3 separate regions of the Homo sapiens genome follow, and all the other regions are linked to region 1. The links come from fine-mapping of genetic effects on gene expression. A gene starts in region 1. Each other region holds a variant in brackets. All regions are shown on one strand. Distances are from middle to middle. Region 1 holds the start of ARMCX4 (armadillo repeat containing X-linked 4). Region 2 has its middle 18 kb from the start of ARMCX1. Region 3 has its middle 17 kb from the start of HNRNPH2.

The links. PIP is the estimated chance that this variant, and not a neighbour inherited with it, causes the effect.
Region 2: its variant is the best candidate, but not a certain one, in a credible set for the expression of ARMCX4 in whole blood (TOPMed, PIP 0.64).
Region 3: its variant is the best candidate, but not a certain one, in a credible set for the expression of ARMCX4 in esophagus muscle (GTEx, PIP 0.74).

Annotation. Positions count from the first base shown.
Region 1 is chrX:101,482,958-101,487,203 of GRCh38, reverse strand. ARMCX4 (armadillo repeat containing X-linked 4) reads right to left here and starts at 1,748. Exons shown (of 6, transcript NM_001256155.3): 1 at 1,674-1,748; 2 at 1,112-1,181; 3 at 1-11.
Region 2 is chrX:101,530,903-101,535,148 of GRCh38, reverse strand. It overlaps a transcript of ARMCX4 not described here and the pseudogene PRKCIP1. Among named protein-coding and RNA genes, the nearest start is that of ARMCX1, 18 kb to the left of the region's middle. The variant C/G (reference allele first, on the strand shown) is at 1,986.
Region 3 is chrX:101,423,191-101,427,436 of GRCh38, reverse strand. It overlaps a transcript of ARMCX4 not described here. Among named protein-coding and RNA genes, the nearest start is that of HNRNPH2, 17 kb to the right of the region's middle. The variant A/G (reference allele first, on the strand shown) is at 1,967.

The DNA of each region.
Region 1 (4,246 bases):
TATGGGAAGACCTTGGAACAGATGGAGAAAAAGAAGAGAGTGGATGTTAAGTACTTGTGACACTTACCATCTAAGACATAGGTCCCTGTACCTGCCTGCCTGGATTTAGAGACCCATTTGCTGGCAGAAAAAAAAAAAAAAAAAAGCCTGGGGCTTCCCCAGCACTGAAATGGGAAGGATGGAAAAGGGAGGCAGGAAAAGTAAAAGGCAACAGACAGAGGCACGTTATTTTATTTTATTTTATTTTATTTTATTTATTTTATTTTTTATTTATTTTGAGACAGAGCCCCACTCTGTCACCCAGGCTGGATTGCAGTGGCAAGATCATGGCTCACCACAGTCTCGACCTCCCAGGCTCAAAAGATCCTCCCACCTCAGCCTCCCAAGTAGCAGGAACTACAGACTGTGCCACCATACCCAGCTAATTTTTAAATTATATGTAGAGATGAAGTCTCGCTATGTTGCCCAGGCTGGTCTTGAACACCTGAGCTCAAGCAATCCTCTTGCTTGGGTCTCTCAAAGTGCTGGGATTACAGGCAAGAGCTACTAGGCCCAACAAGGCAAATTATTTTAAAACCACCTGTAGGGTTCTAGGGATTTCCCCAAAAGCCCACCATTTCCTTCACCAAGATGGTCAGGTAGGTAGAGGGATCTGGAAAACTGAAGGATGGCAGGAGAGATGGGAGACCCCAGATCCCATACTCTAGAACCACAACCTACTGCTGTCCACGTCCCTTTCAACCTATCTCTAGGAGTCTCCAGCAGAAGAGAAAAGCTATAGGGGAAGCCTTTTGCTTCTACAAAATCACTATCCTTCCCCACCAAAGGCTATCTAAAAAATAATAATAATAATAATATTCTTTAATATAATTTATCTTTTTCTCAATATTATCTGAAATGCAAATAAAAGCATCTGTAGAAAAGTTTGCTGTCTTCATTGGTCTTCAACATACAATTTAAAAGTCCTAAGCTTGGTAAGTAAAATGCAGTTTAGGGAAAGTCCCCAAGCTAGCCCCACCCCACATCCCATTCAGACAGCCGCACCTAAGTTCCTGTCATAGAATTCATATGGAACTCCAATGGTTTAGATAGTGTCTGTACTCACACTAACCTCCTTGATCCAGTGCAGTTTTCTCCTCTCCTTCCTTTCTCCTCGCCGCAAACAGTGCTACACCGAACTACTGTCCGACAGACAGGAGAGAGTAAAACCACTTAGTGTTGGTCTAGAGCCCAGGACATAGATCCCAATACTCGCCTTTCCGGGTTCAGGAACCTGGTTATCAAACGTCCCTCCCCACAGTCTGAGACACCACCCTTACCAACCCCACCGTCCAGTCTCTAAGGCCCACCATTTTCTCTGCAAACGCCACCGTGGCGCATCCCTTCCACTAAATTGAGCAGGAAGCGAGCGGACATGTGTGGCCAGTGATTAGAGCGATGGGCATCTCAATCTCTGTATTTCCCTCTGGCAGAGACAATCTCCCCACAAATCAAAGCCCACGGTTCGCCTGCACAGATGTAGGCGGGGGCAAGGGGGCTAGGGAGAATCAGAGGCAAAGGCTCCTCGAACTTGAGGCAGCATAGACCACCGCCCCCTCAAGCCCCGTAACCGCTGCCGGGGTCAGTGAGCTTCTGCCGGCCTGGCCAGGGCGCGCGGGCCCCAGGGCCCTTACCTGCTCCGCTTTCCCCGGGCCCGATGCCAGCCCGCCGAGCGCAGGGCAGCGGGGAGCTGGTAGCCAGATGCGAGTGACGACTGCAACGAAGGCTGCGTAGCTCTGCAGCTCCGGGTCACGTGAGGACCGCGCGTCACCGCCGAGCTCGCCCTCCTCCCCAGCACCCCCTACCACCCACCAAGGGCCGGCGGCCAGTCACCAGGAACTCCCCCCTCCTCCACTCCGCACGCACAGACATCCCCGTTCTCTGGTCTGTGCTCGGTGCCCCAGTGCGCACGCGTTGTCACTCATCTCCGTCCTCTCCAATCTGAGGGCCCACAAGTGGCATCATCGCCTTGTGGTTGGAGTTTACCCATCTTCAGTTACAGGGGAGGGTCTGCATCCCCCTACCCACTCCCGGCCCTTGGCTGTGGCCTTTTATGTTTCTTCTTTGAGTAATCACTTATTTCTCTCTTAGACTATAAGACCAGCACTCCCCACCCGCCCCCTACACGACCTGCCCTCTCTAAGTACAATGCCTGCACCAAATGGGCTGTGGAAGGGGGTATCAGGAAGGAAAGCAGAAGGTGCAAGTAGAGCTTTAATTTTCTTTTTCGTGTTCCTTTTTTTTCTTTTAATATGACATTCTTTTCTAATATTGTAATCAGAAAATACAGTATAGCCATTTTCATTTGACACAAAAAATATTCAGGGTGTAAAAATAACAAAAGACTCATTCTTTTGTTTACATTATTTTGTGCCACATTTTAAAATGTCTTCTGTTACTGCAAACTATTTTACAGCTTTCAAAATTGACTAGTAATTCTTGACATTTTAAATACAAAATTGTCCTAAACAAAACCAGCACGTATTCAATATGATCTATAAGTTAATCTTTGGAAAGACATTTCGTTTTCTAATATTGACAATTTTACACAGGTGATTTGTAACTTTTGAAGTTCTGGCTGAACTCAGCATCTTTTTTCAGGTGTCTAAGACCTTCTTCAGAGAAGACTTCTAGAGGATATATTTAAGACCCAACTCCTGATGAGCCTAGTGCTTTACTAGTGACTTACCAAATTAACCTGCTTTACTAGTGACTTCCCAAATTAACCTGTTTTCCATTCAAGGGGCTTTATTTGGATTTTACATAAGCATGTAATCAGATCAGCCTCACCACACCCATGGAACAACCAACTGCTAGAGCTTGGATGGAAAGGAGACTTAACAGGTGGAATTTTCATCCGTCGTAACACTTGAGATCTCGCCGGTGTCTGCCATTCATGTACTACATACTACCCTAGCAGTGGCGAGTGTTCAATATTTTCCAGTGGAGATGGTGGTGAGGGTCTGTGGATGACTGTGAATCACTGCAACACACCTGATGTCCGTGTCATTATTTTTTTCCCTCACAAGTGGAAGGGCAATGTACAGGATCCCAAGCAATTGCCAAGAAAAAGAAGTTTTTTCATGTCCTGCCTTGTGTTACAACTTCACTGCACCTCCCATACAAGCCCCTCAGAATAATCCCAAAACTCAGGGACCAAATATGCAGAAGTTAGTCCCCACGCATCCACCTGTCCCCGCTGAGGAGTCATACTCCAAATATAGACCCTCCAGGCAGCCTCTTTCTTAGAACATTGAAATAGGACACCCCAGAGGGAGGGGCTCCACTGTGAGGGGCCCCTGTGTGGAGGAGGCCCTTTCAGGAGCCAAGAAAGGAAGTCCTAGTGCCTTACAATCTTACTAATGGCTTTTCAGAACTCAATTGAAAGTGACGAACTTACTTTCTCCACCAAAGGAAAATATTGATAAATTAATTGCATACAAATTTTAAACTTTGGTAAAGTAAAAAAAAAAAACCATAAACATTGACTGTCAAAAGGCTAACTTGTAATAATCTAAAAGCTCTTACAGATCATTAGTAAAATGATAAACAACCCAATAGAAAAATGTGCCAAAAGACATGAACAGATTTGTTCACAGAAAAGAAATAGATTACTAATAAACATATGAAAAGATGCTCAAACAAAGAAATGCAAATCAAAGCAACTATGCCTTACCATGTTTCAAGTATGATTTTCTCAAAGTTTAGAAACTTGATAATATTGTTGACTGGTTTGTCAAGAAATGGGCACTCCTCTACTCTGTTGGAGGCAGATATTGATGCAAGCTTTTTATATAGGGCAATTTGGCAAACTCTATTAAATGATAACTATAATATTTCACAAATTCTTTGACCCAATAATTCTATTCCTTGGAATTTAGCCAACCTATATGCCTACACAGTTTCACAAAGATATATTTACTAGAATTTTTTTTTTTCGCAATGCTTGTAAGGTTTGAAAAAACTGACGCAGCCGGGCACGGTGGCTCACACCTGTAATCCCAGCACTTTGGGAGGCCGAAGCAGGTGGATCACGAGGTCAGGAGTTCAAGACCAGCCTGGCCAACGTGGTGAAACCCCGTTTCTATTAAAAATACAAAAATTAGCCGGGCGCAGTGGCAGGCGCTTATAACCCCAGCTACTTGCAAGGCTGAGTCAGGAGAATGGCTTGAACCCAAGGGATGGAGGTTGCAGTGAGCCTAGATCA
Region 2 (4,246 bases), 48 kb before region 1:
AAGTTGGGTGTCTACCTTCCCACCAGCCCCCCAAGAAAACCTCTCAGTAGTTTCTATCAATAATGTGCAAAATGATGAGCATTTTTCTATGATGAGGTTTTAACCATTATTCAGGGTGGTCTTTATGGTGTATATTTTATACAGAAATGCATTATAAATGTTTTTAATTGTGTTCTGTTTTTTGCAGTCTTTAAGTGCCATGCCAATTGTTTTTATATTCTATAGAAGTTCGCTCAAAATACTCAACAGGGGAATGCGCAGCGGACAGTCAGAATGGTTGGAATTTTGGCGTTCTAAGAAAAACTACTTTGCATAAGCATGTGGTCAGATCATTTTGTGCATATGCAGCCTGGATTGGATGTTAAGTAAATGCTTGTTCAGTGCCGATACATTTACTTAAATCTGTTTTTATTTTTGTCATGTAGAATACTACTGGGGTCATCACAATGTAATCTGTATTTCTGTACCTTTTTTTTTTACTTCGAAGTCTTTAAATTAAATGTATAATACCCAAAAAATAAAAAATAAAGTGCCATCTTTACCATAATTATCATAATCTAAACATCCACATATGTTTGTATCTATTTCTTTATTCTTTATTATATTCTTTTAATCTGTTATCTTTTCTTTCTTCTTAAATAACAAACTGTTTTAACTATAGTATCTTCATAATATGTTTCAATATCTGAAGGGTAAGGTCTCTCATAACTCATCTTTTTTATCATTACCTGCCTGTTCACATGTATTTATTTAGAGACTAAAATCTGTTATTTTGTTATAGTCCCCTAAAAACTACCGTTTTTAATTTCAATTTGTGTTGCACATAATTTATAAGTTAACTGAGTGATAATTGGCATCTTTACAGGAATATCTTTCTATCCAACAACCCAGTTTTTCTACTTATTTGTCTTTATTTTTCTCAGCAGTTTCTAAATTTTTTAAATAAAAATAACTCCTAGAACATTGCCTGGCACACTGTAGGTTATCAATCCATATTTACTGAATGAATGGATATGTCTTACAGATTTTTTTGTTAAGTTTATTCAAAAGGAGCTTATCTTTTCCCATGGCTATTGTAATTTAGATTTTTTTTCTTATTTTACATTTTGTTTGTTGTTTTTATATATGAAAGTGATCAGTTTTTATTCTATTGATTTCATAACCAGCCTTTTTATGGAGTTCCAAAGGTTTCAAGTAGTCTTTAGTTGATTCTCTTAGATTTGCTTCATTTGTGGTAATGATAATCTTGCCTGCCCCTTCCTTTCCAATATCAATATTACATTTCTTTCTCTTGGTTGACTGCATTAACTAGTACTTCTAGAACAATGTTAAATAATTGTGGAAATAACTGGCATTCTTGTCTTTTTCCTAATTTTAATGGAAATGCTTCTAGTGTTTATCCCTTAAACATGAAAGGCTTCTTGTTAGAAATGTATATATTTTTGTCATATTTAAGAAATATCCACCTATTCTTACTTCAGTGAGTTGCATCCAGAAGTTATCTGACTTTAAGTACAATTTGATTAAGATTCTGCTTCATTTTTCTATAATTTTCTCTGCTATACCCTTCCTTACATGAAAGCTTTATCCTTGACTGTGCATTCTAATGGTATCAAAATAGCTGCAGTAATTCTAGGCCTCACACCAGCACCTCAGTCAGAGTCCTAGCCAGTAAAAAAATCTAAATCAGATGGTTCAAGGGACTTTAATGTAGGGACTACTTACAGAGGTATATGCAAGATTATGAGACCCAACAAGCAATTTTGTGGCACCCAGAGGTTAGCAATAGCAGGTAGCTGTTACCCTAGGCCTAAGAGGGCAAGAGGAAGAAATAGTATTTCTGGAGCCTAGTGAGAGCTAGAGTCATGGAGGAGGGGACTTCTGGAAGAAGCTAAAATCTTGAAGGGATGCAGTCCCTGCCAATAAAACATAGCCCAAATCAGAGTGGGAGCAGTGAAGAAATACATTGTCTTCTCTCTTCTTCC[C/G]TCCAAAGCTGTGCCAGGGCATTCCATTGACCAAACCCAAGCAGAAGTCAATTACAAATGGAGTCTGGGGGATGCAGTCCCTAAGGATCAGCCGCCCAGGGCATAGAACAAGACAGAGAAGGACAGGAAATGAATCAGGATGTGTGGGAAAATAAAGACTAACCACCATGGCCCACTCCTTTCACATTCAGCATCTATTCTTGTTATTCTATTCTCCCAACAGGGAGGCAGGGACAAAAAAAATCCCATCAGCCACCGTACTGTCACGGGATAATGCTAATTCAATCATATTCGCCCACCTGAAACCTGATTTATAACAATTATCTCAAGTATTTTTCATATAATCAGAGGAAAGGAAGAGAAAAATAAATTAACAAAGATGTGCATAGCTGTTACAGTTTCCCACTGAAGCTGATCATGAGGCCAAAGTCAATAATCAACTTCATTCTTCTACCACCCATTTCATATTCCCCTTACAGAAACCTGGTCAAAATTATTTCCCTGATGTAGTGACCCTAATCTTCAATCCTGTATTTATTGAATTTCTGCACTTTCCCACTTCCCAGGACTATTAGGCAAAGCAGTACTAGGAGGTGCCCCAGTGAGTATCCCTGGGCTCTGAGCATTGCTCTCCCTGTTTGTATATCAGCAACCTTATTTCCCCTTAGTAATTGGGCTCAATCCCTCTAGCCACTATAGCAGCCCCTTTCCCTGCCTGTCAGTTCAGTGGCACGAGAGGACAAAAATGGCCAGAATGTAGTCTCAGCTTTTAATATAATGGAACCATGGCTTTATTCCCTGGTGAAAGCATTCATCCCTGATATACCTAAGAGCCCAAGGTTGTGGAGACAGAAAAAAAGAATCACATACTTCTTCAGTAGGTTAACTGGTGCAATAGTGAAAAGGGCCACTGCTTTCATGACTTCTTTATTCCTAGTCCTGTGTAACCTCACTATGGGGAAAAAAAGCACCATATATGGGTGGCTCTGTTAAAGCATCTATTGCAATCTTGTCGTACAGTACTCCCAGGAACAGCTGATCCCATAACTAAGCTTCCAGTAAGTTATTTATTTTTGTGTAAGGCAAGCTGCTTCTGCATGGTAAAGTAAGTAGTAAAGACTAGTGAATCTTTGGATGTGCACTTCACTTACCATTAAATGAGTTCCTTGGTCAGAGACAACTTTGTGTAGGATACTCTGATGATGATTAAGGCATTCTGGAAGTCCATGGAGATGGTGATGACAGAATCATTGTCAGCAAAGAAGGTAAATGTGTGTCTAAAATACATATTCATTTCCATGAGGAAAAGTTTCTGTTTTCATGATGATGAAAGGTGTCCCATGTAATAATCCTAACACCATGGGACTGGCTGATGCCCCTAAGGAATGGTGTCTTATAAAGGCTCATCATCTTCTCTGTTGTCAGGTTGGGCACTTAGTATTAGTACAAGATCAGCCTTGGTGAGTAGAAGTTCGTGTTGTTGAGTCCAGGCATAGCTTCCATAATATCGATGCTAAAATCTAGCAAAGATAACATAGACATAAAAATATGACTATTTGCACTATTCTATTATTTTGCCACAGTACTAGCTTGAATTTACTACTATTCTATTTTGGATATTTACATCTATAGTTCTAAGTTAGACTGACCTCTCATGTTTACTTTTTTACTTCTATTCTTCTTTGTTTGGACATAAGCATTATGTTAGCCTTAGAGAAAGAATTAGGTAAATTTCTACATTTTCCTAAGCTCTAGAACACTTTAAATTGTATAAGAATTATTGAATCCTTGACAATTGTTGTTGTGGGAAGAATAATGGCTCCTCAAAGATGTCTACATATTGGAACCTGTGAATATGTTACCTCATATAGCAAAAGGGACTTTGCAGATGTGATTATGTTAAGAATATTGAGATAGGAAGATTATCCAGTTCTATCTGGGTGGGCCCAGTGTAATCACAGCGTCCTTGTAAAGGAAGGAAGGAAGCAGATGAGTCAGAAAAAGATGTGACAATAGAATCAGGCAGTGAAACAGTGGAATTCAGGCCGCCTGTAGAAGCTGGACAATGCAAGGAAATAGATTCTCCACTAGAGCATCCAGTGGTAACACAGCCCTTTCAACCCATTTTAGTCTTCTGACCTCTAGAACTGTATGATAATAAATTTGTCTTGTTTTAAGCAATTGAGTGTGTGGTAACATTTTATACAATTTGTTATAGCAGTAGGAAACTAGTGTAACAGCTATTTTTAAAGAACAAAAGA
Region 3 (4,246 bases), 60 kb after region 1:
CATTGCACTCCAGCCTGGGCGACAGAGCAAGACTCTGTCTTGAAAAAAAAAATGAGAGAGAGAAAGCTCTCACCAGAAGCTGAGGCCATGCCCTTGAACTTCCCAGCCTGCAAAACTAAATAAACCTCTAAATAAACCTCTTTTCTTTATAAATTACACAGTCTCAGATATTCTGTTATAGTAACACAAAATAAACTAAGACACAAAGTAAACATGTTTAGCTATAGTAGATTTTAAAAACACTGAGTCTTAGACCTCTATTCCCTTCCTAGCCTGGCTTTTTTATTTTAGAGATGTTAACTTTATTTTTCCCCACAAAATGAAAATTATATGTACTCTCTATAGAAAATTGGAAAATACAACAAACTAGAAGGAAAGGAAATCAAAACTCTTGTAACATAGGGTTCAAATAAGCTCTCTCCTTTCTGAGATTTGGCATTGACTCAAGAATGCAGCTAGAGAGTTTCTGGAAAAGTCACTGGACAGACCATCAAGCATAAAACCAACAATGTAGTCCTTAAATGTGATTATACAGATCTATGTTTATCAATGAAAAAGTATGATCAGGACCTATTTTTAGGATATATTTTAGAGTGATGGTTAAGATCATGGGCTTTGGAGTCAGACTACCTGGCTCCAAACCTAGCTAGCTCTTTGTCCTTAAACAAATGACACAACTTTGCTGTACCTCCATTTTACCATCTGTGACAAGGGGGTGATAATAATAATACCTACCTCATAGAGCTGCTTTGGGGATTAAATAAAACACTAGAACACTTAGAGAAGCACTTAGAAAAAAATAAAGCTTGGCTCATAGTAAATTTACCATCAACAACCAGAAGTGAGCCATCAACATTTCTCAGCAGTCCTTCTATTTTTCTCTGGTCAACCTACAACCTGCTCTCACCCTTACAACTCATTGAACCTTCTCCATTCTCTTCAGCCTTCCAACTCCTCCTCCTTATTATCTCTACATGCAGATGACCACACCCTCATTTACAGAAAAAATAACGGGGTTGGGGGAGCCTTTAGAAGGAAGTTGTCTCTCATCTTCCTAACACCAAACATAAACCAACTATACCTGCACACATCCTACCAGCAGTTAGTTCCTCAATTAAGACAGAGATGCTCTTGCCTTTTAGTGAACACTAATTCCTCCACCTATGCTTTCGATTCCAGATGCTCCTCTCTCTTAGCAAACGTACTCTATGATTTATCCCATCTCTCTGCTGTATTTTTAACCACTCACTCCCTACAGACCCTTAATTGTAAACTTTACACATCCACAAAATTTCTCCATTAAAAAAAGTCCTTGGCTGGGTGCAGCAGCTCAAGACTGTAATCCCAGCACTTTGGGAGGCTAAGGCAGGCAGATTGCTTGAGCCCTGGAATTCGAGACCAGACTGGGTAACATGGCAAGACCCCATGTCTACAAAAAATGCAAAAATTAGCCCAGCGTGGTGGTGTGCGCACCTCTAATCCCAGCTACTCAGAAGACTGAAGTGGGAGAATCGCCTGAGCCCAAGAAATCAAGGCTGCAGTGAGCTGTGATTGTGCCACTGCACTCCAGCCTGGGCAACAGCGTGAGACCCTGTCTCAAAAAAATAAATAAATAAATAATTTGAAAGGCCTCTCTTGACCCGTAGTCTCGCTCCTGCTTCTACCCTGACTTTTCCATGCCCTTCACAGCCAAAGTGCTTCAAATAGCTGCCTATATTCTTTGTTTCCATTACTTGCCTACCGGCTGGGCGCAGTACCTCACACCTGTAATCCCAGCACTTTGGGAGGCTGAGGTAGGCGGATCACCTGAGGTAAGGAGTTCAAGACCAGCCTGGCTAACATGGTGAAACCCCGTTTCTACTAAAAATACAAAAAATTAGTCGGGCATGGTGGTGTGCGCCTGTAATCCCAGCTACTCGGGAGGCTGAGGCAGGAAAATTGCTTGAACCCGGGAGGCGGAAGTTGC[A/G]GTGAGCCGAGATCGCACCATTGCACTCCAGCTTGGGCAACAAGAGTGAAACTCCGTCTCAAAAAAAAAAAAAAAAAGTGCCTTCCTCTCTCTGCTAACCACACTCCAATCTGTTCCATTCTAGATTTCTGCCCCGTCATTCCATGAAAATAGATCCATCCAGGACACCAATGCCTCCATATTCTTAAATGCAACACATATTTACCAGTCCACATCTTATTTGACCTCTGAGCAGCAATGGACATTGTTAACAGTCCATTCCCTACATCTTGAAACAGTTTCTTTCTTTGGCTTCAATGACACAAGTCCCTCCTAACTTTCTTTTAAACCTCCCTGGCTGCTGTTTCCCAGTCTCCTTTGCAGGCTGACTCTCCTGTACTCCACATGAAATACTGGAGTTTCTCAAGCCTCCTTCTTTGATCTCCTGCATTCTCACTCTGATACTCTTTGGCCTAGACAACCTTATCCCCACACATGGCTTGAATTATCAACTATATCCATATAGCACACAATTTATATATCCAATATATAGGCCCCTTCTGAGCTCTAGATCCATCCATCCAACTACCTATATTCTCTTGGGTGTTCTCAAAGGCACGTCAAACACAGTATGTCTAAGACTAAACTCACAGTCCTCATACCTGAACTTAGTATTCAATGTGATCTTAAAGGTCCTGCTTCTTAATGCTGTTACTCCAAACATCCAGTTGTACAAGCCAGAAACTGAGAAGTCACCCTTGACCGCTCACTCTCACTGTAAGATACAGGGGGGAGTAAACAAAATGTGGATTTTCCTATACTCTCTATTTAATATAGAATGCTTCTGTAGCCCCAGATGTATGGGAGAATTTTCCCATACATCAAGCAATCAGTTTTGCAGTGGACACCAGCTGGATGTCCTCTAATTGAATTCAGTTCTGTTACTACCTACCTGGAGATAGTGTCAGATCCCACAGTTTGAGAGCTCAGGCTCACAAGACTGCTCTCCACTTCAGATGCCAGGTTGTAAGCTATGCTTCTGACTGACCCACTGTAAATCAGGGTTCCCATGACCCTCCCCTTGGGTTTGATTAATTTGCTAGAGAGGGTCACAGAACTCTGAAAAACATGTTTACAGGTTTATTATAAAGGATATTACAAAGCATATAGATGGACAGCCAGATGGAACAATCACATAGGACAAGGTACAGGATAAGGGGCACCAAGCTTCCATGCCCCCTACAAGCACAGCACCCTCTAGGTACCTCCATGTGTTCGCTATCCAGAAGCTCTCCAAACCCAATTCTTTCGGGTTTTTATAGACTTTACAGCCAGGCACGGTGGCTCACGCCTGTAATCCCAGCACTTTGGGAGGCCGAGGTGGGTGGATCACATAAGGTCAGGAGTTCGAGACCAGCCCCACCAACATGGCAAAACCCTGTCTCTACTAAAAATACAAAATTTGCCAGGCGTGGTGGTGCATGCCTGTAATCCCAGCTACTTGGGAGGCTGAGGCAGGAGAATCGCTTGAACCCGTGAGATGGAGGTTGCAGTGAGGCAAGATCACGCCATTATACTCCAGCCTGGGCAACAAGAGTGAGACTCCATCTCAAAATATAAAAATAAAAAATAAATAAAATAGAGGCTTTACTATGTAGGCATGATTGATTACATCATTGGCCACTGCTAGTCAATTTAACCTTCAGCTCCTCTCCCTTCCCCAGAGGCTGGGGGTGTGGTGAAAAAGTCTCAACTCTCTAATCCTGCCTTGACCAGCGCCCCCGTCCTAAATCTACCTAGGAGCCTCAGCCACCAGTTATCTCATTAGCATGCAAAAGATACTTTTTTATTTTTATTTTTATTTTTATTTTTTTGAGACGGAGTTTCACTCTTGTTGCCCAGGCTAGAGTGCAATGGCGTGATCTCAGCTCACTGCAACCTCCGCCTCCCAGGTTCAAGCGATTCTCCTGCCTCAGCGTCCCAAGTAGCTGGGATTACAGGCATGTGTCACCATGCCCGGCTAATTGTGTATTCTTAGTAGAGATGGGGTTTCACGATGTTGGTCAGGCTGGTCTCAAACTCCTGACCCCTGGTGATCCGCCCACCTCGGCCTCCCAAAGTGCTGGGATTACAAGCGTGAGCCACCACCCAGGGCAAAAGATACTCTCATCACCTCAGAGATTCTAAGGGTTTTAAAAGCTGTAATTCGCGAAAATGAGGATGAAGACTACCATGGTTTGAATGTTTGTCTTCTCCAAAACTCATGTTAAAATTTAATTGCCCCATGGGCATGGTGGCTCA